4 linked regions of the Homo sapiens genome follow. The protein of the gene in region 1 purifies or fractionates together with the protein of each later gene. This does not show direct contact. Each region holds a gene or a part of one and is shown on either strand. Other genes may lie near its edges.

Region 1 (7,779 bases):
GGTCAGAGGCTTCCCTGCCAGCAAACCCTCCTACTCCAGGCAAAGCATCAGGAAATGAGAAATGCTTTTTTTTTTTTTTTTTTTGCCTCTGTCACCCAGGCTGGAGTGCAGTGGCACAATCTCAGCTCACTGCAACCTCCTTCTCCTCCAGGGTTCAAGCGATTCTCATGCCTCAGCCTCCCTAGTAGCTGGGACTACAGACGCATGCCACCATGCCAGGCTAATTTTGTTATCTTTAGTAGAGACAGGGTTTCACCATGTTGGCCAGGCTAGTATCGAACTCCTGGCCTCAAGTGGTCTGCCTGCCTCGGCCTCCCAAAGCACTGGGATTTCAGAGGTGAGCCACCACACCCGGCTGAGAAATGCCTTCTTTTTACCAAAAGTTCACAAGCCCTACCACATTGGTTCCAGGTGTGACTTGGGCCCAAACTGCCAACCTCAGGCCCATCTAAGTTATTCAGGGAGGACCGAATGGGAGCAACAGGAAGGGCCACAGCGACAAGTTTTGCAGGGGACCAGAGCACACGCACAGAGGAGCCACGACCACAGAGGCCGTTTGCACACCCGCAAGCAGTGGCGGGCACGTGGGTAACTCAAGAGCATCTACATCGGAAACCCAGCCAGAGACACAACACCACCTTCAGCCAACCTGAGCCGCCCGGGAAGGAGTGGCCACGCCAGCTCCAGACTAGCCCGGCTGGAAGATCAACAGGATGTGAGAGGCAAGCTCTAAAAATAGCCACCTCCCGGGACAATCGCTTGAGTCCAGGAGTTTGAGACCAGCCTGGGGAAATATGGCAAAACCCCGTCTCTACAAAACATTTTAAAAATTAGCTGGGCATGGTTGTGCATGCCTGTGGTCCCAGCTACTAGGGAGGCTGAGATGGGAGGATTGCTTTCGCCCTGGAGGTCGAGGCTGTGGTGAGCTATGATTGCATCACTGCATTCCAGCCTGGAAGACAGAGCAAGACCCTGTCTGTCTGTCTGTCTGTCTCTCTCTCTCTCTCACACACACACAAAAACACAGCCACCTCCTAGTGCAGACTGGAGAATGGTGTGACAGGCTCCAAGCTAGGAATGAGAACGCTTAGCTCCCTCCATCCCTTAACACGGGTACAGCTCTCGGGCATCCAGGGCATGACGTCTGCCCACATACTATTTCCTCTCAAGAAGCCTTGTGGCCACATTCGTCTTCGTGGGTCATTCAGGAAAACCCCGGTCCCCACTGTCAGCTGCCAGCTGAGTCCTTCCATCCTGCCAGGTCATTTCTGCACAAGACCACTCCTCACATAGAGCCAGAGCTGCATGTGAGCCCTGGGGGTACCCACGGGGAGGGAGCCGCCTTAGTGGGGGTCAGCTTCGCAGCACCCTCTGGCACTCACCAACCCATCCATGCTCCAAAAAGGAGACCCCCAGATGGAGGTTTCTCGCTGTCCTTTGGACCCTGTCACAGTGTGTCCCCCTCCTCTGCTAACTGCAGTCATGACAGCAGCCAACAGGTCTCATGCCTGCGTCCTCCAAGCCACACACGGAGCCGCAGGTGCCACTGCGGTGTTTCAGGTGGGGAAACTGAGGCTCAGACGTTAAGTGACTTGGCCCTGGCGACACAGCTGGGGGCCAGCGGGGCCTGGTTTCAAAGCCACGCTTCACACTGGAACCCCAGCTGCTCCTGGAGCAGGGATGTTCTGACGGGGACAGGGGGTAGGACGTCTCCTCTCCCAGAGCACCCGAGTTCCAGCCCTGCTGCTATTAATACCATGGGTAAACTCAGACGCTTCTCCTTCCTCCTCCCCTTGCCTTTTTTTGTCCAAAGACTGGAAAAGAGCACGTCCGCATCCCCCCCCCAGGGAGGTTCTGCCGCTCTAAGCAACAAGGGCCGCCAGACTGGCCCAGTAACCAGGTATCCAAGGTCAGGCTGCCCTAAACCGCACAGCTCCGGGCACTCATGCTCCCCCATCTGACCACGCAGATGCCTGGCCTTTGGGCAAGAAACCATGCTCTGATTCTCGCTATTCTGAATGCGCTTTGCAAAACCTCCCAGCAGCTGCATCGAGCTATTCATTAGCTGACAGCGGAGACCTTCAGGCAGAACCAGACGGACGGATGGTTTTGGGGGTTTCTCACCTCTCAGTTTCCATTCGCTAGGAGGGAAAACCGGGGGCTTAGACCGCAGGGGTAGTGGCCTCCGGGCCAGACTCTTGGCTTCCTGTTCTCTCTCCTCACCTGCGAACCCCAAACTCCTCTGCCAAGTGTTTCCCTCCCGTGATGGGGGCAGAAAGGACCCAGGTCCCTGCCCTCCCCTGTCCTTTGTAAAGTTTGCCATTTCTCTGTCACCCCTCCCTTGCTTTTCTGGTTTTGAGACCTGTCTTACATCCCTGCAGGGATCATATCCACAGCCTTCTCCCTCAGTCTCCTGGGGGAGGAAGCCTTCTCCCTCCCCGGCTCATACACAGGCTGCGGGGAGCCCTGGGCACGACGAGATTCTCGGCGCCCTGGAGGTTCCCCGGGGACGTCCCGCACCCACCTGGCTCGCCCCAGCCCGGAAACGCCTTCTTTCGGGCGCTTGGCCCTGGATTCCCGACCCGTCCCCAGTTTGCTCCCATCGGGAAGCGCGCAGGTCGCCCTGGCCTGGGAGAGGATGGCGGGGAGGGGGCGCGTGGCCCTTCCCTGGCCCGGCCTTCCCTCTGCAGGACCTGCCGGGGCTGTGCGGACCCCGGCGCGGCGCTGCACCAAACCCTCGCCAAGTGCGCCCTTCGCGTCTCCGCGGTCCCCGCGCGCCCGTAGCCGCCGCCGCCCGGGCGCCCTCGGGACTTGGTGCGCGGGCCGGGCTGGACCCGGAGCTGCCCCTACCCACCCGCCCCGGCACGGAGGTCCCTCTCGGTCCCTGCGCCCCCGAGTCTTCCCCGCGCGCCCCCCTACCTCGCAGTCCCGCGCCCGCCGGAGCCGGCAGAGGCCGCGCCGGGCACCGAGCCCCGGGCAGCAGCGTGGGCAGCTCGGCCTGGGCCGGGAGGATCGGGAGGTCCCGGTGACGTCGGCGCGCGGGGCAGGGACCGAGGCGGGCGGGACTGGGGCCGGTGTGGGGCCGCGGGCAGGACAGGAGGGCCACACCCCTCCCGGCGCTCAGCGTCCTGCCCCACTCCCTCCAGCTGCCCGCGGTGGAGCTCACGTGGGACCCTCCAGCCTCCCAGAAACACCCGGGCAGGGGGGCCCCAGAGCCTAAAGCCAAACAGGTGAGGGAGGTCAGTCAGCCCGGGCCAGTTCGTGCCTCCCCAGGTGAGAGGAGTAAACCCGGCTACTCTGCAAGGCGCCAGGTGAAGAGGTGAACCAGGCCACCAGTTAAGGCCCCAGGTGAGAGGGGTGAACCAGCGCCACGAGGTGAGGAAGGGGAACCAGGCCACCAGGAGAGGCCCCAGGTGAGAGGGGTGAACCAGGCTATCAGGCAAGGCGCCAGGTGAGGGGGTGAACGAGGCCACCAGGTGAGGAGGTGAACCAGGCTTATCAGCGAAGCCCCAGGTGAGAGGGGTGAACCAGGCCCCTAGGTTAGCCCTACAGTCAGTGGCCCTGAGGACGGGCGCCCTGCCCTACCCTGGCCAGCTGTGAGTGCAGCCCTGGCCCTGTGCCAGCCACCAGGAGATGGAAAGGACTCTAAGTGCGGAAGGATGCCGTGAAGGCCGGCATGACGGCTCCAGACAGAGCCCAGAGGCCTTTTCCATAAACTGCCCTTTTCCTCTCTGCAAACCCTCCCAGCACCAGCTTCCCTCGGGCAGCCTCCCACCAGCTCTGCTTCACCGTGCAGAAATGCCCCCCACGCCCTCAGCAGCGCCCCACAGATGGCTGAGGGATTCGTCACCATCGTCCCACACCAGTGCAAAGAATTTTTTTTTTTTTTTAGATGGAGTCTCGCTCTGTCGCCCAGGCTGGAGTGTAATGGTGCAATCTGGGCTCACTGCAACCTCCACCTCCGGGGTTCAAGTCATTCTTCTGCCTCAGCCGCCTGAGTAGTGGGGATTATAGGTACCCATCATTGTGTCCAGCTAATTTTTGTATTTTTAATAGAGATGGGGTTTCACCTTCTTGGCCAGGCTGGTATCAAACTCTTGACCTCATGATACACCCGCCTCAGCCTCTCAAAGTGCTGGGAGTACAGGCGTGAGCCACCACACCCAGCCTCAAAGAATTTTTTTAAGCCTTAAGAAATAACACGGCTGGGCGTGGTGGCTCATGCCTGTAATCCCAGCACTTTGGGAGGCTGAGGCAGACAGATCACAAGGTCAGGAGTTCAAGACCGGCCTGGCCAGTATGGTCAAACCCCGTCTCTATTAAAAATAAAAAAATTAGCTGGGCGTGGTGGCTGGTGCCTATAGTCCCAGCTACTCGGGAGGCTGAAGCAGGAGAATCACTTGAACCCGGGAGGCGGAGGTTGCAGTGAGCCGAGATTATGCCACTGCACTCCAGCCTGGGTGACAAAGCAAGACTTTGTTTCAAAAAAAAAAGAGAGAGAGAGAAAAACAACACAACACTAGGTGTCCGGTGTGCAAAATTTGGAAAATTATGAAAAATAAAAACAAAAAGAAGACCCCATAAGCCAACTGTGTAGAGGTAACCTCTCTCACCTTCTTGTCAGACATCCTTCTGATCGCCTTCTCCTCCACATTGAAATGTATTTTTAAAAAGTTTTTTTTGAGACAGGATCTTGCTCTATTGCCCAAGCTAGAATGCACTGGTATAAACGCGAGTCACTGTAGCCTCGACCTCCTAGACTCCAGCAATCCTCCTCCCTCAGCCTCCTGAGTAGCTGAGACTACAGGTACGTGCCATCACACCTGGCTAATTTTGAAACTTTTATGTAGAGATGGGATCTCGCTATGTTGCTCAAGCTGGTCTCAAACTCCTGGGCTCAAACAACCCTCCCAGCTCGGCCTCCCAAAATGTTGAGATCACAGGTATGAGCCACCGTGCCCAGCCTAAATACATATTTTAAGGGATTCACGTCACATACTGCGTTCTGCAGGCGGCCCGTGACTTCACACTCATCAATAGCCAAAAGTCCGTCTCCACACCCTGATGGTCTGCGCTGGACTCCGTGTCATGGATCTGTCACCTGCTTTGGGATATTTTGGTTTCTCCTGGTGTCTCACTAGCATATATCACTGTGATAGACGATCTTGTTTCCACAGATCTTTGTACAGGTATCTGGTCCCCCTCACCTTGGGATAAATTCCTACAAATAGATTGTGACTCAGAAAGCTGCACTTCTTCACACGTGTTGCCGCAGGGATTTTCCAGGTTATTTCTGTTGGGGATGGAGAACCCAGAACCTGAGAAAAGATGAATGTTCTTTTTTTTTTTTTTTTTTTTTTCTTGAGACGGAGTCTCGCTCTGTCACTCAGGCTGGAGTGCAGTGGCGTGATCTCGGCTCACTGCAAGCTCCACCTCCCGGGTTCACACCATTCTCCTGCCTCAGCCTCCTAAGTAGCTGGGACTACAGGCGCCTGCCATCATGCCTAGCTAATTTTTGTGTTTTTAGTAGAGATGGGGTTTCACCATGTTGGCCAGGATGGTCTCGATCTCCTGACCTCGTGATCCGCCTGCCACGGCCTCCCAAAGTGCTGGGATTACAGGCATGAGCCACCGCACCCGGCCTTTTTTTTTTTTTGAGACGGAGTCTCACTCTGTTGCCCAGAGCTGGAGTACAAGTGGCGCGATCTCGGCTCACTGCAAACTCCACTTCCTGGGTTCAAGCGATTCTCCTGCCTCAGCCACCCAAGTAGCTGCGATTACAGGTGCCCGTCACCTCGCCCGGCTAATTTTTGTATTTTTAGGAAGGACAGGGCTTCACCCTGTTGGCCAGGCTGGTCTCGAACTCCTGACTTCAAGTGATCCACCCGCCTTGGCCTCCCAAATTGCTGGGATTACAGGCGTGAGCCACCGAGCCTGGCCTGAATGTTCTGTCCTAAAGCTGCTTATTACAAAGAAGTTGTGGAATATCCTCCCCCCAACCCCCACGCCCCTCCCTGAATAGCCACCGGAAAGGAAATTATGCATCGAGGCCGGGCGCGGCGGCTCAACCTGTAATCCCAGCACTTTGGGAGGCCGAGGCGGGCGGATCACGAGGTCAGAAGATCAAGACCATCCTGGCTAACACAGTGAAACTCCATCTTTACTAAAGATACAAAAAATTAGCCGGGCGTGGTGGCGGGCGCCTGTAGTCCCAGCTACTCAGGAGGCTGAGGCAGGAGAATGGCGTGAACCTGGGAGGCGGAGCTTGCAGTGAGCTGAGATCGCGCCACTGCACTCCAGCCTGGGCGACAGAGACTCCGTCTCAAAAAAAAAAAAAAAAAAAGCAATTATGTGTCAAGCCCAGAGTGGCAGTTCCTCCTCTGTCTGTTGGGTCAGCCCGGGAGACTGGAAGCCCAGATGAGTAGGGCCCCTCCTGGGTGCCCCAAGTTGGGTGGCGCCATGCCCAGTGCCAGGACCCCCGAAACACAGAGGCAGCCTGCTGATGACCTGGCCCCTGCCAGCCAAGGCTTCACTCAGCCAACGCCCTGTCCACACTGCACCCGGGACACGCTGGTCTCCCACCGGCAGACTGCACACCCCTTTCTGGTTGAAGCTACCTCGTCAGAGTCTATTCTAGAAAGAGGCCGTGATATGGGGACCCCTGTCCTTTCAGTGATGAACAAAGGGGGCCGCCCCCAACTTTGACCCCATCACCATCCTCTGACCCAGGCCGACTTGGGGTTAAAAGAGAACTGTGTGGCCTGGGGAAGCTGCTTCACCTTGCCCTGCCTCAGTTTCCCCAGGGTGGGTTACATAGCGGCTCCCAAAAATGTGCCTACTTGCACCATCAGAATGGGACCTTATTTGGAAACCGAGTCGTTGCAGATATGGTTAAAGTAAGGATCTCAAGATGAGGTCATCCTGGGTCAGAGTCAGGGTGGGCCCTAAATCCAATGCAAGTGACTTTGTAAGAGACAGAAAGAGGTTCCTCATTGGAGGAACAAGACAATGTAAAAAATAATGACAATTTTTTTTTTTGAGATGGAGTCTCGCTCTGTCACCCGGGCTGGAGTGCAGTGGCGTGATCTTGGCTCACTGCAACCTCTGCCTCCCAGGTTCAAGCGATTCTCCTGCTTCAGCCTCCTGAGTAGCTGGGATTATAGGCGCGTGCCACCAAGCCCAGCTAATTTTTGTATTTTTAGTAGAGATGGGGTTTCACTGTGTTGGCCAGGCTGGTCTTAAACTCCTGACCTCAAGTGATCCACCCGCCTCGGCCTCCCAAAGTGCTGGGATTATAGGCATGAGCCACTACACCCAGCCAACAATTTTTTAAAAAGAGAGAGAAAGAGGCTGGGTGAGGTGGCTCACGCCTGTAATCTCCAACACTTTGGGAAGCCGAGGTGGGAGGATCACTTGAGCCCAGGAGTTGGAGACCAGCCTGGGCAGCATCTCTACAAAATATTGTAAAAAACAGACAGAGCTGGGCGCGGTGGCTCGCGTCTCTAATCCCAGCACTTTGGGAGGCCAAGGCAGGCGGATCACGAGGTCAGGAGATCGAGACCATCCTGGCTAACACGGTGAAACCCCGTCTCTATTAAAAATATAAAAAAATTAGCCAGGCGTGGTGGCAGGCACCTGTAGTCCCAGCTACTCGGGAGTCTGAGGCAGGAGAATGGTGTGAACCTGGGAGGCGGAGCTTGCAGTGAGCCGAGATCGTGCCACTGCACTCCAGCCTGGGTGACAGAGCCAGACTCTGTCTCAAAAAAAACAAAAACAAAA
Region 2 (7,024 bases), on another chromosome or scaffold:
TCCCTTTTCGTGAGGTTGCTGTTGGTAAAATGTTTTTGCTGATGTTTAGTATAGTTTCCTCATTTTTAGAAATTCACATTCAGTAAGCCCAGTTTTATGTTTGTGTTTGTGTGTGTGTGTGTGTGTATGGGTGTGTTTGGTGGTGTTTCCCCATTTTGGTAGGTATGGGGGAGGGAAAAATATACGATACAGTTTCAACTGGAACACTTAGATATTTTCAAGTGTAGCCTGTAATGCACCCTGCTCATAAGGCAATTTTGGCCTGTATCCCCAGTACATATTCTAGTGGTCTGGAACATAAGTGATGAGGTAGAAGAAGGAGGAAGAAGAGCAGAGGGACGGGCAGCCAGAAGCAAGAACAAAAAGGCAGGGAGCACTGGGGCAGATGGAAGTGAAATATGGGGTGTGGGCATAAGAGACAGGGAAGAAGCCGGAGCAGAGGTTACAGCGAGACTTGTCAGGGCCACAGATACTCTGAGGTGCTGGAAGATTTTGAGTATCCCTACAGTCACACTTCTTTTTAGCTGTTGGTTATTTGGGTAGAATTCTGCTTTCCCGTGGACAGTATCAGTCTTGGTATCTGCAGAGGTGACAAGATGGTGGTCCATGAGGACAGTGAGGAAGCACTTCGACTCACCACCCACCTTGACACCGACAGCCTGCCAGCTTTCCCATCACCTAGGACTGCCTTTGGCAAAGCTCTGTGCAAATGTTGTTCCCTTTCATCATGCTGACTGAGTTCAGCACAAACAGCTTGTTTACTCCCAACAGTCAGTGAGCTATAGTTGATGACCTGAAAGAAAATGAATGCACTCTCCGGATTCGTGCAAGCAAGAATGGGAAATGACAAAAATACCATGGAATAAAATAGAATCTGGGGTTCTTCACGGTTCGATGTCTTGGGGCTGCAATGAGGCAACAAAAAATATTCCCTAGTAAAATGACGTGTGGAAAGAGGCCTTAAGGTATAGCTGGTGCATGAAGTGATGGCCTATGCTTTCGAGTGGGTGGAAGCTTCTTGAGGAAAAATGATCTTGGAGAGTTACTGCTTCCTACCTTACCCCTCATGAAAGGGGGCCGGGTTCTGGCTGAGAACAGGGATATTCATCCTCAACAGCAGAACCTCTAGGAGACAACTGGCAAAGGTGTATTGTTTCACAAAGATAATTTCTTCTGCAGTACCGCAGAATATGTTCTTTTCTTTAATTAAGAACAAATTGGTTGGGGCAGATTTGGGGCAAAAATGACTGGTCAGACATGTGGAATGCCAAGCTTCTTTGCATTAGGAGCAAGCTTTGATGGAGCGGGGTCACCATTCTGCTTGAAATCGACTAGCAGTGGGGAGGGAGTTCTACTAGGCTACCCTTTGAAATTGATAGGGATGTGGGCACCAAGGAGAGGCTGGGATGAGAAGAGATGCTCTCACCAGCCAGGCTGTGGCAGCGATTTGCTCACCAGTGTGTGAGGGTGTGTGTTGTGTGCACGTATGTGGTGCACACCTGTGTGTGTTTGTATTCAATTGGTCCTTCAACAATGGCGTCTTTTCAGAGGGTCTTCGGGGTGTTATGAGAGACTATGGGTACAAGTGATTTATTCCGTGTAATTTAGAAGTGGGCCTATAGTCCTCTTGTGTTTTGGGAGACTGTGCTCCTGGAAACTGATCCCAGTGCTGAACAGTTTTAAGGTAGCAATGAAGAGAAGCTTGGGATCTGAGCTGTTGCAGACTTTTCCTTGTTTTCCTTCCAGAACCATTTATTCTTTCACTCACTCAAGAATACCTATAAGAATACCTATAGTAGATAAGCACTGTTCTACTTTAGGGACACAATGCCTTGGGGCCTGCTCCCCAAGCAGCTCATTGCTAGTGTGTTAGTTAGCTTTTTCTGCATAATAGACCATCCCCAAAAACTTAGTGGCATGAAACAACAATTTATTCTGCTCCAGTTCTTTGAGTCAGCAGTTTGGGCTGGGCTCACTCAGGTGAATGTGGTCAGCCACAGCTGGCTAATCTACGGTGGCCTCAGTTGGGACGTTTACCTCTCCTTCATGGGGTCTTTTATCCTTCAGCATCCAGGTTTGTTCACATGGCAGCTGGCAGGGCTCCGAGGCAGAGAGCAAAGGTATGCAACACTTTCATTGCGTTCAGTAGGTCAAAACAAGGGACAAGGTCAGCCCAGATTCTAGAGATGAAAAAATGGGCCCCATCTTTTCATAGGAAGAGAGGTGCAAAGTCACATTGCAAAAGGACTTGATGCAGGGAAAAGTGGAGATTTGTGGCCATTATTGCAGTCTGTCTTCCACAGCCAGTAAGTACACACATGTGCACAAGCAATCTAACCACCTTATCCTGAGGTCAAAGATATACGTCATGACTTTCTTAAATCTCAGTGTGACTTGTCTGTATGTTTTGGGTAAATTGTAGTGAAAAGTTCTGTCATAGTGGCATTCATTTCATTTTGTTGTTTTTTGAAGGAAGGACAGTACTTCAATGCAAAACCTAACGCCCATTCAGAATGTTGGGTGAAAATTTATGCACACAAAATCTTTGAAGTTCAACCCTATAGGATGCAAGACCATGAGATTCTGTCCCATATGCTCCAACGGGGGAGGGAGTATTTATCCTGTTCACCAGTGATCCCAAACTCTAGCACATAGTCAGCACTCAGTGAGGTCTGTTGAATGAAGGAGTGGGTCAGTGCAGGTTTTGAAATGAGGATATAACAGGGAATGTGAAGGGCCTGACTGAGCCCTGGGAGCCTGTATGTGAATTCTACAAGGCTCATTAGAATGGTCCAGCCATCTGATATGTTTTTTGTGTGAGGTTTTATGAACAGGACACAATGGGGTGTGATTGGGCTGTCCTTTTCTAAGCATAAAACACGCATGCATTTGATATTTGTCAGTGATGTTTGCTCTTCATCCACTGTTTCCCTTTTCTGACTGAGGACACATGTAAAGTGAATGGGCTTACATGTCAGGAGCAGATCAGAAAAGATTGTTAACTTTTATTTATAACTCTGTCAGTCATTAAATAAGCAAGATACAGAGTCTTATTCTCTAACAGCCTTTAGAAATAAGCCAGATACCCACTAATCTAGTTTCAGAGCCCAGGAATGCACCACATGACACCTCAGCATTCCATCTAGACCTTGGCTCTGGAGCTCTGTGCATTTTGTTCTTCCGAAGTTGAAAGTTAAGTGGGAGAAGCAGTCTGTTTTAATAATTTAAGTGTATCTTCCAGTAGGACTTGGCTTTCAAAGACCATTGAGAGAGGGGAAGGTCAAAGGGCTGCTGCTGTCTTCTGAGGACACCAGCTTCTTGAGCTTTCCTGACCAGTTGATTCCCCTCTCATCGGGCTGTCCTTACATTCTGGTCTCCTAGTTGTGGGGCTCTATTGCTTCTTATTCAGTTGAATTCAGAATACTTTACAGCATCATCTCATGACTTGGAAGTTTTACAGAGAGCAAATCAGTGTTTTAAAAGATGCATTTGGGGGCCGGGCGCGGTGACTCATGCCTGTAATCCCAGCACTTTGGGAGGCCGAGATGGGCGGATCACAAGGTCAGGAATTTGACACCAGCCTGGCCAACATGGTGAAACCCTGTCTCTACTGAAAATACCAAAATTAGCTGGGTGTGGTGGTGTGCACCTGTAATCCTAGCTACTCAGGAGGCCGAGGCAGGAGAATCGCTTGAACCCGGGAGGCGGAGGTTGCAGTGAGCCTAGATTGCACCATTGCACTCTAGCCTAGGAGACAGAGCGAGACTCTCTCTCAAAAAAAAAAAAAGATGCATTTTTGAACTTAATTATAAAATACATACGAATCATAAGGCAACAAACCAATGAATTATCAAGAATAAACACTGATATTTAGGCCTTGACACAGGTGAAGAAATCGAATATTGCCAGCACCCTAAAAGTCCTGTTTGTACCATACCCAGTCATCACCCCTTCTCTCCTACCCAAGTGTAACTACCATCCTGAGTTCCGACATCCATAGATTAATTCTGCCTGTTTTTAAACTTTATATAAATAGAATCAACACAGAGTGTGCACTTTTGTGCCTGGCTCAACATTATGGCCATGCAATTCATCTATTTTGTTGTGGGAAGCAGTGGTTGGTTCATGTTTATTGATGTACAGATTTGCATTGAGTATACCATAACTGATGTACCAGTTAATGGACATTTGAATTGCTTCCAGTTTTTTACTATTATGAACATTCTTAGGCGTGTCTTTTGGTACCCATATGCACACATTACTGTTAAGTGTATATATTTAGGAGTGGAATTGCTGTGTCATGGAGCATCCATATGTTCAATTTTAGTAGAGATGCCCAGTTTTCCATCGTGGTTGTTCCAGTTCACACTCCCACTAACAGTGCTGTATATCCTAGTTAACATTTGATATTGTCGGTCTGTTTAATTTTAGCCATTCTGGTGCTATGCAGTGGTATCTCATTATGACTATAATTAACATTTCTCTCTTACTAGTGAGGTTGAGCATCTTTCCACATGTTTAATGACTAATCTGATATCTTTCTGGTGATGTCCCAAGTCAACTATCTTGCCAATTTTTCTATGGTTTGTCTGTCTACTTAGTATAGATTTGTGGGAGTCCTTTTTAAATTCTGGATACAAGCCCTTTGGAGGTCATATGTGTTGCAGATAGCTTCTCTAACTCTGCCTTGCATTTTAACTCTCTTTGTGGTAGCTTTTAATGAACAGAGGATCTTCATTTTAATGTAATCCAGTTATCTGTCCTTGTGCCAATACCACAGCCTTAAAAGGTAATGCAGTTTTATAGTAAATCTTGAAATGTTTTGCATATGTCTTCCGGCTTTTTCTTTTTCAATATCGCCTTGTCTATTCTTACATTGCATTTCCATAAACTTCCATCCATTGCATTTCCATAAACTTTAACATTCAGTTAATGTCTGAGATTTTTATTGGAATTGTATTAGATCTGTATAGATCGATTTGGACAGAATTGCCAACTTAATGATCTTGAGCCTTCTACTACATGATCATGGTCTATTCCTCCATTCATTTAAGTCTTCTTTAATTTTGCTTAGCAATGTCTTATATCATTCCATGTAGAAGTCTTGAACATCTTTTGTTAGATTTATTCCTATGTGTTTGGTTTTTTTAATGTTATTGTAAATAGCATCCTTTTAAATTTTAATTTTCTGTTTATTGACAATATTTAGAAATACAATTGATGTTTATATTTACTGTAGACCTAGTATCCCTAATAAACTCACATGTTTTTTGTTGTTGTTGTTTTTGAGTTGTTGTTTTTGTTGTTGTTGTTTTTGAGTCTCACTCTGTCACCCAGGCTGGAGTGCAGTGGTACGATGTTGGCTCACTGCAACGTCCGCCTTCCGGGTTCAAGCGATTCTCATGTCTCATCCTCCTGAGTAGCTGGGATTACAGGCATATGCCACCATGCCTGGCTATTTTTTTGTATTTTATTAGAGATGGGCATTCGCCATGTTGGCCAGGCTGGTCTCGAACTCCTGGCTTCAAGTGATCCACCTGCCTAGGCCTCCCAAAGTGCTGGGATTACAAGTGTGAGCCACCATGCCCGGCCTAAGCTCAGATGTTAAATTTTAGTTACTTGTAATATTCATATGTAGATTATTTGGGTTTATCTATGATACACAGTCATATCATCTGTGAATAATAACAGTATTATTTATTCTGTCCCAGCCTTTATGCTTTTAATTTCCTTTTCTTATGTTCTATACTGGCTCTGTGCCTTTGGAGCTAATGAGGTTTTTTCCCTCTTTTCTTCCAGATGAGGCTGAGGCACACATTGACTATGAAGATAACTTCCCTGATGACAGATCTGTGTCATTCAGAGAGCTCATGGAGGATTCCCGGACAGAGGCAGATGAGGACAGGGGTCAGGGAGACTCCTCTGAGGAGGCTCCAAAACAGGACCGTCTGGTCTCCATTTCTGTGGGGAGAGAAAACATAGCCCGGGATAAAGTCTTTGTGCCAACCACAGGCTTGCCTGGTGCTGGGAGCAGTGTCCCCGCAGATTCACCAGGATCACGGCTGCTCCAGAAGCACTTGTTCTGGTTTCCTGCTGAGGCTTTCCACAAGCCTGGGTTGGAAAAGGAGGTGGATGATGACACCAAAAAGCAGTTTTCTGCTGGAGACAACCACAGTGGTGTAAAATTGGTCCCAGGTGAACCTGAAACCAAGGTGATCTACGGCAACACTGATGGTCCCTCGGGGCCATTTGTGGGCAAGAATGACAGCAAGGCAGGAGATCCAGTGGTGAGCAGCAGTGATGAGTCCTGGTTAGATGGCTACCCTGTGACAGAGGGGGCTTGGAGGAAGACAGAGGCAGAAGAGGAAGAAGATGGGGACAGAGGGGATGGGTCAGTAGGGCTGGATGAAAACGTCCTAGTTACTCCTGATCAGCCCATTCTTGTGGAAGTTAAGAAGCCCAAGAGTAGCACCCTCACACCAAGCGAGGGCATGACCCATAGTTCAGTTCTTCCATCTCAAATGCTAGATGTGGAAGCTTTGGCGCTCAGACCCGTGAATGCTTCCGAGACTGAGGGCATTGGGGATGGTGACTTGACGAAGTACCAGTCAACTCTACCCTGGAGATTCATCACAGAGGAATCTCCCATGGCCACCCTGTCCTATGAGCTCACCAGCTCCACCCTGGAGATATTAACAGTGAACACTGTCAAGCAGACACCTAACCACATCCCCTCAACGATCATGGCAACCACCCAGCCTCCAGTAGAAACCACTGTTCCTGAGATCCAGGATAGCTTCCCATACCTGCTGTCTGAAGACTTCTTTGGACAGGAAGGCCCCGGGCCAGGTGCAAGTGAGGAGCTTCATCCCACCTTGGAGTCGTGTGTGGGGGACGGATGTCCTGGCCTCAGCAGAGGCCCTGTGATCGCCACCATTGTCACCGTCCTGTGCCTACTGCTGCTCCTGGCAGGTGTGGGGATGGTGTGGGGCTACCGCAAGTGCCAGCACAAGAGCTCTGTGTA
Region 3 (7,024 bases), on another chromosome or scaffold:
CCTGAAGGTAATGTGACTCGGCCCAGAGGGTCAAATTTAGGGATATGAATGTGGGGTGAGAGAGGTGGGTTATTGAAATAGAAATCTCATCAAATAGATTATTCAAATCTCCATGAAGTCGTGGTCAAGGATTTGGATGGAACTCTAGCCATCTATCAGCTACAGAGAGCCAGCTACCATCCTCAGACAGGACTAAAGATGTAGAAGGATCTGGAACTTTGACATTTTATATGTTTTGAAAGCATGTTCTGCCATCTGGGATAATGTGTCTCTTTTGCCTCTGGAACACATCTATGGTCATCAAGAAGGAAAAGTCAGAAACCAGAATAGAAGGTGGTACCTCCAGACAGGAGGATCTGCCAGTTACTACTTGGAACCTCCTCCCTTCTCTCTTCCCTGTATGATGTATTTTCTTTCATGGCTTAGTGGTAGCTCAAAGCTCAAGGTGACCAGAATGATTCCCTTACAGCAGTGGTTCCCAAACATTGATGTGCAACAGAACAACTTGGGTAGTTTGTAGAAAGGGCAGATTTCCTGGCCCTATTCCCAGAGATTCAGAATTAGTAGGTTTGAGGTGGGGCCCAGGAATCTGCACTCAAATGTGCTACTCTCAGGATCTGACCTAAGGGGCCTTTCATATGTGGCCCCCTTTCCTCACCGGAGGACATAAGTGCATCACACAAACCTCTTGCTGTGGGCACTTCCTTTGGGGTTAAAAATGGGACCATTTGATTAAGGCAACCATTGCTAACCATCTTACTTCCCTGGGCTGGAGAAATATCAAATGTCACATTTTATGTTCTTAAAATCTCAGGGCCACAGATTTCCTTTGACAATGACATGCTCTGTAACATGAAATTTATATCCTAAAGCCTTTTGTCCTTCCTTCTTACCACACTCGGTGGGAGATTCTGCAGAAGACTTTTGGTTCAGTCTAGAAAATGGAAGTAAATGTTACCCCTGGGAGAGAAGCCACACCCGAAAGTCTAACTTAAGGAATGTAAAGAGAACAGCAAGTTGAGAGTAAAAGCTAAAATGTTCCAAGAATCTTTCAGCTTCTAGGACAATGAAGGTTCTGATTCCCTAAAAGAGGACTCTTCTTTGGGGGCAGGGGGTGTATCTTGGTATTAAAAGCTCATTGACAATTACTATTCCTCCTCCTCACCTCTGTGTTTCCAAGACGTTTTGGGCTTCTGTGGAAATAACCCCTTAATATTTTCTTTCTTGTGGAAATGTTCCTTGATAAGCAATTCTGTGCCAAGACGTTGTCCCTAATTTGGTCACTGGCTAATGCTATAGGCAGTGCTATGACTGATTTGTTCAAAGCTGCTTCCCCTATGTGGCCCAATGCTAAGCCTTTCCTGAAGGAATAAGGGAACCATCTCACCATCAAGCAGCTGAGATGGCCTGAAAGCATCCTGTTTGGACTATGACATTTCTGGCTGTGTTCATACATACTGCTTCCCCACAGCAGGCCTGATCAGTCTCCTACCCCACCTGCATAGAGTGTGATACAGCTGTGAATGCTTTTTGGACCTCTCTCTAGGGCTTCCCTGAGAGAGGGGAGTTAGAATGGGGCTTTGGGAAGCCTATGTGGTAGAATCCCTGGTACCCAGAGTGGGAGAAGATGACACCCGGGGCACTGCAGGGAGGGAACCAGGAGAGATGAAGTAGTAAGCTGAGGCATGCCCTTCTGGCCAGGCTGGCGTCTCTGGGCATGGCCACATCTGTTCACAGTCTGAGACTTGAGTCCTGGGGTCACACAAGGGCACTGGGTAGGAGATGTCTATCTTGGGAGGAGGTCTTGGGAAGCAACCACAGATAGGTGGGATGATGGGATGGAGAAAGGGTGAAACTAGGAGTTCTTAATATAGTTGAGGGGGGAGAAAAGAAAAAGCACACACTGCCCTGTTTACTTTTTTTTTTTTTTTTTCATTTATGCTATGGAGAAACCAGCATGGAGATGTCATGGGAGAGCATGCACAGGCCCCGCCCTAGGGAGTGGTGATGTGTTTGGGGAGGTGCTTGTTTCCAGGTCCATCCCACACGTTGTCCAGTTGGATCCTATGGCAGGCTGGCTGTGGCTTTCTCTCTCCTGCTTCTCTTCCTCCTCCAGATAAGGGTCTGCAGGATCTTCTGCTTAGCAAGTGGTGGCCAAGGACTGGTGGATGGGTGGCTGGAAGCAGCGCACATGCTCCACAGTGGAACTGTCTGTCTCCACGGACTTCATGTATTTGTTCAGGATGGCAAAAACCTCATTGTTCAAGATCTGATACTTCCTGATCCGGTCGGCCATCTTCTTCAGGGGCTACAGAAGGAAGGGGATGTTCAAGTTAGGGCAGGACAAAGTGGGGGTGGAAAGAGGGAGTAACAGGAGAAGTCACTGAGGTCCAGGGTCCCCTGCATCAGTGATCATGTCACTTTCTTAAAGTCCTTTTATGGAATCCCCTGGATCTGGCAATCAAGTGTTAACTGGACCGTAAAAACCCTCTCCAAGTTTTAAAACGATCTACAGAGCTACAATAATCAACAACACTGTGGCACTGGTAAAAAGGTAGATGTACAGATGAATAAAACAGAATAGAGAGCCCAGAAATACACTATTACACATATGATCAAATGATTTTCAACAAGGGTGCCAAGACTGTTCAATGGGGGAAACAGCCTTTTCAACAAAAGGTGCTGGGAAATATGGATACCCACACAAAAAATAACAATGGACGCTTACCTTATACCATATACAAAAAATTAACTCAGAATGGATTAGAGACGTAACCATGAGATTAAACTGAAATTCTTAAAAGAGAATATAGGGGAAAAATTTTCATGATGTTGGATTTGGCAATAATATCTTGGGGTATGACATCAAAAGCAAAGGCAAAAAGTTGCACTACATCAAAATTGAAAACTTTCATGCATCAAAGGGACACCATGAGAATGAAAAGGCAACCGAAAAATAGAAAATAATCACAAATTATATCTGATAAGTAATATCTAGAATATGTAAAGAACTTCAACTCAACAAAAATGACTCAATTAAAAAAATGGACAAAGGACTTGAATAGACATTTTTCTAAAGAAGATATACAAATGGCCAATAACACATGAATATAGCACTCAGCAGTGACAGTCATTAGGGAAATTCAAATCAAAATCACAACAAGATAACTTTTTCACCCCTCAGGATGACTATTATTAAAGAATAAGTGCTGATGAGGATGTGGAGAAATTGGAACTCTTGTGTACTGCTGGTGGGAATGTAAAATTGTGCAGCCACTATGGAAAACAGAATGGCAGTTTCTAAAAAGTTAAACATAGAATTACCATACGATCCAGCAATTCCACGTCCAGGTATATACTCAAAAGAATGGAAAGCAGAAATTTGTAGAGTTATTTGTACACCCATGTTTCATGGTAGCCAAAATTAACCATTTTCAAAAATACCCAAAAGGTGACAGCAACCTGAGTGGACAAACACAACGTGGTCTATATACACAATGCAATATTATACAGCCATAAAAAGGATGGAAGTTTGGACACTACAACATGGATGAACCTTGAAGACATCCTAACTAAAATAAGCCAGTCACGAAAAGACAAATACTGTGTGATTCTATTTATATGAGGTACCTAGAGTAGTCAAATGCATAGAGAAAGTAGAATGATGGTTACCAGGGGCTGGGGAGAAAATGGAATTATTTTTTAATGGGCCCGGAGTTTCAGTTGGGGAAGATGAAAAATCTCTGGAGGTGGATGTTGGGAATGATTGTACAATACTTGTGTACTTCATGCCACTGAATCATATACTGAAAATTACCATTGAAACTATTTTATGTGTATTTTTTAAAAAAGCCCTTTGTGAGGTGGCTCTTACCTCTCTCTCCTCTCACTGGGTCCCTGAGACCCACCCTTCGATCCGCCTTCCTGCCTCAGTGCCTCTGCTGTCACTGTTGCTGTCTGGAGCATCCTACCCGCCCCATACCACCTTTGCTGCTTGGTTCTTTGCTGCGGGCCATTCTGGAGTCAGCCCAGACACAGCCTCCCTCTCCTGGGAAGCTTTCTCTGCCCTCAGCCTGGTTTAAGGGTCCTTCTCTCCCTTCCCATAGCAGCCTGGCTCACCCCACGCCAGTACCTATCCCATCCAGGTGCCCCGTACAACTCTGGTATTTGGTGAATATTTGTACAGGTGAGAAACTGGCATCAGCAGAGTCTGATTGGGACAGGGAAGATGTGCTCCCGGTCTGGAGCCCAGCCCTGCCCTTCGGGGTGAACTGATTCATGGCAGTAGGTGATGAGTGGGTGACTCACGACCTCACGACTTCCTCTAAGCAGGTCCCCAGCCTATAGTATCTTTGTACTTGCCGTGTGGGGAGCTGGCCTTCACAAGCAGCTCCTCCTTGTTTGCTTTTCTGGTAAAAGCCTGGTTGTCAGCCCAGCCCCACCTCCCAGGCCTTAGCCACCAGCCTGCTCACCACATTCTTAATGATTTCATCCTTCCCGTCCTGCCTCTGCACTTTTAGCAGGTGGTAACAGAAGTCGAACAGGTCAAAGCGACGCTGCTGGCCCAGCAGGACAATGATGGAGCAACCAGCCCAGTTCAAGCCATCGCCGAAACACTGCCTGGGAGCAGGGGGAGGAAGCAGCTGGAGTGAGAGGTCGGGGGAGGAGGGCAGGGAGGGAGGGAGCCTCATCTTGGGCCAGGAGTACAGCTACTAAGCAGGCCTGTCTTTGGGCCAAGTCTCTTAACCTATAAAATGGGTACAAAGGAAGCTGTGAGGGTGGGTTCATTAGTTGCAGGGATGGTAGTTATGTCATAAGTCCTTCCGGCCACAAATTACATTTGCATCACTAATGTAAAAAAAAAAAAAATCAGCTCTAAAGACGCTCTGAATTTGCAAGGAAAAACCCACCCAGCTGTTGAGATGTATGTGGCTGATTACTCCGTGCAGGTCAAAGGAGAATCTGTCTTGACTCTCTAAAGGAGCTAAAAGAACACCTAGCAGGTGAGGGGCCATTTCAAACCAGGAGGCCAACTGGCCAGAAGCAGGCTGAAAGGGAAGGGACAGGCCATGGTGGGCAGATGCTGCTGGGGTTGAGGCTGAGTCCTTTTGGTTCTGACAAAGCTCCAACTCTCAAGAGGCCTGGCCCCCAACTCTCAAGAGACCTAGGCAATTTGGATGGCAGTAGAGTCATCCTTTGGCTGTCTCTTTTGTCCTCAAGCAGCAGCCCCAACCCGGGCAGGTGTCCCCAGTTCCCCATCACTGTACTGGAAGCCTACAGGCTAGCGCTGCTCTGAAACAGCTTCATCAACACCACTTTCTCCAGGAAGCCTCCTCTCCCCACCACGCCTTTTTCCTAGAGCTCTTGGCTGCTGGAGGGGAGGCCTTGTCTGCCTTTCCACTCTGTCCTAGACATGTAGCTGGGTGAGGGCAGGAAGAACTAGCTCTGCTGTCTGCTCTAAGGACTCCTAAAGGCTCCTCATTTTCCAGTAGTACAGTGTAGTGGGGGTGAGGCAGGCAGTGAGGGTCTTACTATCAAACCCTTACTGGGCTCTTTCTTGCCAATGCAGTCAGCTCAACACACTCAACAAAGTAGTTGTTGGCCAACCACCCCCACCCCCTGCCCACGTTTCTGGCTGAACTCTGGCAGCCCCATGACTTGCAGGAGCACAGGCAGGTTGGGGGTAACCCTGCCTTCTCTGGGGGGTACTCACTCAGCTGTGAACTCGTTGGTTCCCACAGGGATGCAGTACACGAACTGCATGGCGCTCCACAGCCGGTGGAACTCCACACACTCATCGACGTGCATGACGCCATTGGTGGGCGGTGGGCCCCGCCAGATGGGGTCCTGCAGGTAGCTCCGAATGCGGGTCAGGATGACCTCGAACATGGACAGGCCACAGCACAGCCGCTCCTTGGTCAGGAGGTCACCCTCGCGAGCAATGGCGATTTGCTGGAAACAGAAGGGCACATACACCTTCTATCCACATCTTAGAGCCCATCTGCCACCTCCCACCACAGATTCCCGAACTCTGGAGCTGGCTGCACCTGAAATTGGTTCACCAGAACTGGTCTTGTTCAGAGCAGGGCACAAAATTGATGATCCTGAATGCAACAGCAGGGAAGTTTCATGGTAAGTCTTACTGGTGTTAAGTAAAATCCAGGCACCATCAGTAGCGGATTAATTTTTAAAATTATGATTTACCCACATAATGAATTCTGGATAGCCATTGAAAAGACTGACATGATACTACTAGTAGTACTACTGCTTCTACTATAATTACTACTAGCTTATGCTTTCTGAGTGTGGGTAATAAAGCAGGCCCTGTTCTAAGCACTTGATAGGTATTGAGTCCATTCCATCCCATGAGGTAGATGCCATTACTCTCCCCATTTTACAGACGAAGAAACTAAGGTTCAGAGAGGCAGCCAGTGAGTGTTAAAGCTCACACTTGACCCAGTAGTCTAGATCTATTGGTTAAGTTGTAAAGTAAATAGAACAAATTGCAGAAATGAATGTATACTACAATTCTACTTAAAAACATTGACAATGTACAATCACACAGATGAAAGTATGTGTGATGTGTGTGTGTAAAGCATATTTTAGAAGGACTAACATCAGTTGTGGGAACAGATGGGCTTGGAGTAGTGAGTGGGATTGTCACTCTTGACTTTAAATACTTCTGTACAGTTGAATGTGCTACAATGAGCATATGTTACTTTTAAAACTTGCCCATGATTTCAGATAATTATTTCCTCTAGAAGTGCTTCTTTGACAGTTACAAATGACCTCTATTAATAATGTAAACTGGCTTTTCATCTGGGTTCTGGCTACTGCATATCTAATAAGCAGCTGGCTAGACAGACTAGATGTCAAAACACATTACTACACATGTTATGAGTCAAAACATGTAGGGGTAGAGGTCCTGAAAGCTATCTGCAAAGTAAGGTAAATGTTAAAATCTGAGGTTAAAGTAAGGTCTCCAAATCTGTGAACAAAGCTAAAAAAGGCAGGCTTCTCACAC
Region 4 (7,024 bases), on another chromosome or scaffold:
CACCAAAAGGGGAATAACAGTATATAGGTCACAGTTTGTCAGTACTCATGAATGCAGTGATAGCCATAATTGGTCAGGCATAGAGCAGGTGCTTAACAAACCTTTGAATGTCACATAGAAAATGGATTTAGTTTTTACGTGGCTTACACAGCAAGACAGAGGGCAGCATGGGCCCATGCTGGCTGCCCTGGGCTTGGTGTTCCTGGCGTCATCTCCATTCTTCTGGTCAAAAAGATGCCACTAAAGCAGAGGCTGGGAAATGGTAAGGACCCAATACAGGGTCTGAAGGGTGGCCAGAGTGGACAGGGCACCAGACTCTTTGGGACTGCAGAACATGGCCTACCATACAGGTTTCATGGTCCCACTCAGTAGTTAACAAGAGCAGTCTGCCCTGATAAGAGTTAGGACCGGCTGACAAAACTACAGACATCCTAACATCTCGAAACTGTAGAGCTAGAAAAGACGTTAGAAATGGTCTAGTCCAACCACTTTGGGTTTCAGAAAAGGTAACTGAGAAAAGGTAACTTGTTAGTATGACAACTAGGACTTGAGCTTATAGCACATGGCCTCACCACTTACATGGTCTACTCCCCAAAGCAGCTCTGCTCATTTCATTCTTTTAGGTATTGGCTGGTGACTTAATTTGTAATTTAGATTTTAAACGGTGAGAGTATGCTGAGATCCATTAAACAAGTCACAACTAAACTTGAGTAAAACTATGACCTTTAATTGTAGACATAGAATTAAGAAAGAAGATGGGGTGACCAGCCTGAGCAACATGGTGAAACCATGTCTGTACTACAAATACGAAAATTAGCCGGGCATGGTGGCACACGCCTATAATCCCAGCTACTTGGGATGCTGAGGCAGGAGAATCATTCGAATCTGGGAGGCAGAGGTTGCAGTGATCCAAGATCGCGCCACTGCACTCCAGCCTGGGTGACAGAGTGAGTGAGACTCTGTATCAAAAAGAAAAAAAAAAAAAGGAAGAAAGATGGGATTTTATGAAAGCACTGTCATCTCTCAAGAGCAGGTGCCCACTAAAATAATTAAATCTAAATGTACAAATTCTTTGCATATACATACACAACACACACACACGAATATGTATTTTTAATGAAGAGAGCTATAAAAAGTGCTTAAACAGTTAACACTGATTTTAAAACTAATTACTTCAATAAATATAAAAACTTCACACCTCAACTGGTGTTCTACATTTTCCATCTGGCTTTAAATCTGAAGCGAATTAATTTGCATTATAAAATTTGGAAGCTGTGTTTCAACTTAGATATTCTTTATTTTAAATTATGAGCTTAAGCGCTGAAGGACATAAAAATAAAGCCCTAAAAAAGCACAGACAGTAGATGGATTTTTACTATGTCTGCTAATTTATTCTCAACGCTACAACAGAAATTAGCATATGTCCTCACTCTCTCTCTGCAATCCATTCCTAAGGCCTATTTGGCTTTGACTTCTCTCATACGTGCACTGAGTAACACCAACTGACCGATTTCTACATCTGCAGTCGATGTAACGTCCTAGTAAGAGAAACAACACATTTTTCGATGCCTTAAGAAGGTTGCCAAAATATAGAAGAGGCCTTTGGCATATTTTTGGGAAAAAATATGCAGTAATTTGGACCCACAACAGTTGGGTTTCCTCACTGGAACCAAGTATCGAGTACACAGAACAACCAGGCTACGCAAATCTTCTCTGTGGATGGCTATTATAAATAGACAGATATGCCTGTATATTTAGCAACCCAGTGCATTCCATACTAAATGAAATACTCTGAGTCTTGGAAGAATCTTCTAATGGTTAAATACCAGTTGGTTTCATTTAATTCAGGAAATATTTATTGAGTGCTTCTTATGTGTCTAGCGTGGTTAAGAGTTAGAAACATCTATGGGAACTTCTAGAATTGCCACTGAAGTTTCAAAGGATGCATCATTTATCATTTCTCTGTTTTGAGAAATAATTGGACAACCAGCTACCTTTTCACTTCTAATGAGACTGAAGAAACCAGTCCATGTTAAAAGGGGCAGTCTTTAGGATCTATTATACCAACACTAGAGGAGCGACGTAAAGAGCGTAATTCTTGACAAGAACATTAATTCACCGGCTTCGTTCCCCCCACACCAAGTTAGATGTTAATGTGTTGCATGAAGAGTTTCAGGTAGGTACAGCACTATGTTTTTCATCTTATGCAATAGTCTTTTCAGGGAGAGTCCAAGAATTGGGAAAGCAGTGCTGACATAAGATCATTCACACACAGAATCAAATGATTCTACAGGATGCTTTGTTTCAGGAGGTTAAAAAAAAAGAAAGGATCTTCATTCAGGGCAAAATAAGGCCTTGGCAGCATAAGGACATTCATTAGAGTTACCTGGAAATACCGTGGTAGAGAAGTCTAGAAGGAAGCAAAAGGTTTATACAGCATTACGGCTTAACGTAGTTGCACATATACAGTCATCAGCTTTTACGATGACACTGTGTGGGAGTAGTCAGCTGTTTCCAATCAGAAAAGTGATGCAGTAAGTAAAACTTCAGTGCTAAATCATATTTACTCTTAAAGGTGACCACATATAAAAAGTGTAACAGTTCAGGCCATTACTTTGAAAATTTTACCCTTTTTGTTTGTTTTTAAACCCAACGATTTCTGATGCCAGTAGATGGCACTAGTGGTATATTAACAAGCATAAGTCATTCTTTTGCTCCCGCTTAAAGGGCCGTACTCTTTTATAGAAACACTTAAGCAGCCAAAGAAATTGCTCTGTATAACTGTGGTTTTTCTGTAAAATGAAAAAAATTAGAATAAACTAAAACATCTTTAGGAAGAGAGTCCCATGGAGCTAGTCTGTGCATCCTAAGTCCACAGAACATAGCATTCCTCCTCCTGACTGCACTGTCAGTCACTTTAATCCGACTCTTGCTAATATACTCTGTCTTATGACTGCCACACTGCGCTCCTTGCCAGGAAGAGCAGCGCCTACCAGAACGTATCACATTGAGCCACTGTCCCCAATGTCATAAAAATCAGTGAGACAAAGTAAAACAGAAATTGGAGCCAGAGGAAATAAAACTGTAGAAACCCACTAAAAAATCAACAGTAAAGTTAAGGAGTTATGATTGGGTGACAGAAGAAACCTCAAGGAAGAAAAGTAAATTGAGGTGCTGCTTGGAAAGAAGGAATTACACAGTAGATTAAAGTCAGAGGAAGGAGTTTGAAATACCTGTGAATAGCTGCAAAAAGGTCTTCTGTGGTCCTGGGTCGACTGGGGGTCATTACCTCATCATTCCCGTCTTCCTTGAGGAAGTCACAGGCCTCTGAGGATGAACCGGCTGCGTTGGTCTCCGGCACCCCAGCTACAGAAGAGCAGGCAGGCATACAAGACGCACAAGTGACTGGAATTTCAGTCCTCAGCCAAGCTTCTAAATATGCTGCTTCCCTGCCATTCCCGACAATGTGAGAACCACAGGGAGATGCCGTGGGTCTGTAGTTTGATAGTTTACAAAGAAGGGAGGAAATGACACTAGCCTGAGAGCCAGAGCTCATTCTTTGTTAAAGTATGGAACGCCCATGGCATCTCTCTTAAATTTTGTTGCAACGTTTCTTTGCGCGGCTCTTCGGAAGGGAGGTGTTACCCATTGCTATTTAATACCCAGCCTGCTGCAGATCATCTCCATCCCCCTATTTTCTGCCATGCCTTTAGGTCTAGATTTTAAAAATAATAACAAAATGCAAAGTTGGTAACTTAATCTGTGTTTTAACACAGGAAGCCTACATACTGCTAGCTTTAACAGGAATCTGATCTACCTGGGTTCTTTCCACGTGTGAGCATTCAACAACCCTATCTGGTTCAGCTGCATATGGGCAGAGGGCACAGGAGAGAGAAGCCAGGAAGCCAGACTCACCTGCTCCGTCCTGTTGAGATAGGCAGCTCTCCCCATCGCCCCCAGTATCCGCACTGTTCTCGGCTGGCTCCTCCTGCTTGGGGGCTGGTGAGACATCAGGCTGAACCATGGGGACATTGGCTTCCACTCTGCTGGGAGACATGGATCCTGCAGCTCCTCCCTCAAGAACCGAGGTGCCAGGGTGCGTGGCATGAGAGCCAGCTTGGGCTGCAGAACTCTCTTTTGCCTCCCTGCTGTGCACAGAGCCCTCCTCTCCCGTCGTGGGGCTGGGCACAGCTCGGAGGGCTTCGCTCACGTTCTCTGCGGGCTCCACTGCAAAATCTTTCTGCGGAGGTGGTACCACCAGGAACAGTTTGGGCTTCTTGGAAATGGGGGGTGGCTTCCTGCTGGGTGAAGAGTCTGGGAGTGGGGTGGTGCTGGGGCTGGGCCGAGCCTCTGCCTCCCCAGCGCTTGGAGCTCCAGGGCTGCGGCTCACAGGGCCACCACGCTCAGCCGCACTGCCATGGTCACCCTGACTCGAGCTCTTGGCAGGCGTCGGAAGCGAGCTTGTCACAGAGGCAGGCTGGCTTTCACTCTCCATTTCATTTGTGCTATTTCGGGATTTCAGGAAAGCAGATGGCTTTAAGTGGTACTGTGGAGCAACTGGAGTTCGTTGTTCCTGAGCTGTTCGTTCAGACAACTGTGCCGCCTCAGCGCCTGAGTTCTTTCTCACGGGCCTCAACTGCACCATCTGCAATGCTTCCGTGGTTATCAGGGGCATGGGGGGCCTGCTGGTCTCCTCCTTGGTAGAAGGCGGCCTCAAGGATCCCCGGGAGGATTCTGGCTGGCCAGAATTTGTGAAAGGCGGCCTGGTGTCTTTCATGAATTTGGGGTCAAGAGGTGGGGCAGGTGGGGGTTCCGAGGAAGGTAAGAGAGGTGGGGGCAATGGCAAGGACACAGGTGAATCTGGAAGAATGGGGCTCAGTGCAGGGCGGGGAGGAGAAAGGCACCAATCAGGTGGGGAGCAGAAAGGAATGAGAGCTTCTGGCGGCGGAGGGGGGAACACAGGAGAGTGAGGCAGAGGAGAGCCCTGGGAGCAATCTGTGACAGGAGGTGGGGGAGGAAGGAAAGGAGACCTGTCTGCAGGACAAGGGAATGGAGGAGAGGGAACAGGAGGAGGAGGAGGAGCCGGGGGAGAGCCCACGGCTGGATCCAGCTTCTTCATAGTGCCACTTCCTTCAGTAGAAGTACTAGAAGAAAGAGAAGTGGACGATGAGGAAATGGATACTGAAGATATCAGAGAGGACTTCCTTTCTGGTACCTTGGGCTTGGGCTTCCCCTTCCCGTTTGCTGGTGACACTGATTTTAAAAACACAGGCACAGGGGTGAGTGCTGTGGGTGTATTCGACTGGCTGGAATACCCACTGGATGGAGAAATGACTCTGTGTGACTTCTCTGGTGACATGATCTTTGGTTTGACTGAACCACCGGGCACTTGGGGCATTGTGGCTCTGGACCCTTCTTGGACATGGCGGACTGGCCCGTTCCCAGTGGGCACCCCACTGCTGGTTGAACAGCCCCCTGCCGGGTTCCCCGGATCTTCCTGCATGCCCGTGTAGTCAATGTAATAACCCCAGGGGTCCGTGTACTCTGACTTGACGCTGCTTGTGTCACTCTGCGATGGCGTGGCCCCGCACAGGGAGTAGACATTGGGGGTGGTGGCGGAAGTCATGCTGCTGCCAGCACTAACTGTGCTCTGGCTCCGGGAGCGGGGCAGCCAGGGCTCTTCCAAGTCACTGCAGGGGCTCTGGGAGGGCGAGCTGCCACTCTTGCCTGGGAGGCTCAGCTGCAGCGAGTGCTGGAGTGTGGCGATCAGGCTCTCGTTGAGCACCTGCCCGTTGCACTGGCTGCTCTTCTTGGGAATCCTGCGGAGGGAGTCTGTCCGGGAGGGTGGCAGGGGAGGCTTCTTTGCTTTCTTCAAAGAGATGTTTCTTGATAGGGATTTATCCTGGTAATTGGACCGGTCCCCTTGGTTTTTCTGAGCTCTTCCAACAAAAACATTGATCACGCTGTGCCTGGGGTTCCCAAAGCCATCACTGCTATTGCACAGATTCCCAGATCCATGTCCAGAGTCAGTGTGCACAGATGCACAGTAGCCATCGTGGTCCTCAGAATACAGCGACCCAGCATCCTCTTTGTTGGACGTTTGGTCCAAACTGCAGCTGCTCATGTTACTTGTGGGAGTGGAATAGCCAGGAGTTGCTAAATGCGGCTTCAGGGGGGATGCCCTTCCATTACCTGAGGATTTGTATTCCCAGGGCTCCGAGCTGCTGTGCCCTCCGCCCCCTGAATAACTAGATTCACTCTTGCCATCCACATCTTGGGGGTGGGCTGGGAAGGCCAGGTTGTTTCTACAATTATACGGCATAGCTTGGGACCCATTCTCCCTATTTGCTGGAGCATTTAGAGGGACGGCTGAGTCACAGAGGGACAACAGTGCGGGTTCACCAGGGGAATGAGGGTCTAAGTCCTGTGAAAGAATGGTGGCATGGCCCTCATTCCAGTGGCGACCGGGAGACTGAGGATCACCTTTCACAGCATGCCTGGAGATGAGGTGGTCTCTGGATTTTATCCTTGCATGTGATGAGCCAGAACTTTTACTTTCCCGCTGTCCCGCACTCTGAGCAGTGGGAATAGCGATGACCTCGGAAGAGGAAGACAGTGTGGCATTTGGGATGATGCTGGTGGAGTAGGTTGCATGAGGAGAAACCACACACGCTGGGCTCATTATATTTTCACTCTCGAAGTGTCTCAACTCCTGGGATTTGGGTCTCAAAAGTGTTCCAGTCCCTGAGGCACCTCCTAAATGGCCTAAGTTTTCATCTGCTTGTGGGTGACCTCTCTGGTAGAGGAAAGTGCCATTCATGTCTCCTGCAGGGCCGAGGGCACCCAGCCTCGGCTCAAGGGACTGAATGTTTGCCCTTGCTCCAGAACGCGGAAGACTATGGAAGCCAGCATCACTGTCAAGGCGGGAAGGGAATACGATCCCTGCAGAATCGCTCAGCACAGACATGTTGCCAGAGGAACCTGAGAAGTGGCCCATCTGGGCAGCAATGCCTTGCCCCTTCTG

What was found.
Region 2: the proteins of AMZ1 (region 1) and SUSD5 purify together in Homo sapiens (affinity purification with mass spectrometry; 2 studies listed by BioGRID and IntAct, with this or other methods). This does not show direct contact.
Region 3: the proteins of AMZ1 (region 1) and CYFIP2 purify together in Homo sapiens (affinity purification with mass spectrometry; 2 studies listed by BioGRID and IntAct, with this or other methods). This does not show direct contact.
Region 4: the proteins of AMZ1 (region 1) and NHSL1 purify together in Homo sapiens (affinity purification with mass spectrometry; 2 studies listed by BioGRID and IntAct, with this or other methods). This does not show direct contact.

Annotation. Positions count from the first base shown.
Region 1 is NC_000007.14:2,683,437-2,691,215, reverse strand, and holds the start of AMZ1 (archaemetzincin-1), read right to left. Parts: upstream 3,015-7,779; 5' UTR 2,920-3,014; intron 1-2,919. UniProt on the Homo sapiens protein: Probable zinc metalloprotease.
Region 2 is NC_000003.12:33,152,809-33,159,832, reverse strand, and holds part of SUSD5 (sushi domain-containing protein 5 precursor), read left to right. Parts: intron 1-5,799; coding exon 5,800-7,024.
Region 3 is NC_000005.10:157,388,117-157,395,140, reverse strand, and holds part of CYFIP2 (cytoplasmic FMR1-interacting protein 2), read right to left. Parts: intron 5,953-7,024; coding exon 5,714-5,952; intron 4,621-5,713; coding exon 4,473-4,620; intron 2,309-4,472; coding exon 2,141-2,308; 3' UTR 1-2,140. UniProt on the Homo sapiens protein: Involved in T-cell adhesion and p53/TP53-dependent induction of apoptosis. Does not bind RNA. As component of the WAVE1 complex, required for BDNF-NTRK2 endocytic trafficking and signaling from early endosomes.
Region 4 is NC_000006.12:138,426,478-138,433,501, forward strand, and holds part of NHSL1 (NHS-like protein 1), read right to left. Parts: coding exon 3,916-7,024; intron 3,367-3,915; coding exon 3,234-3,366; intron 1-3,233.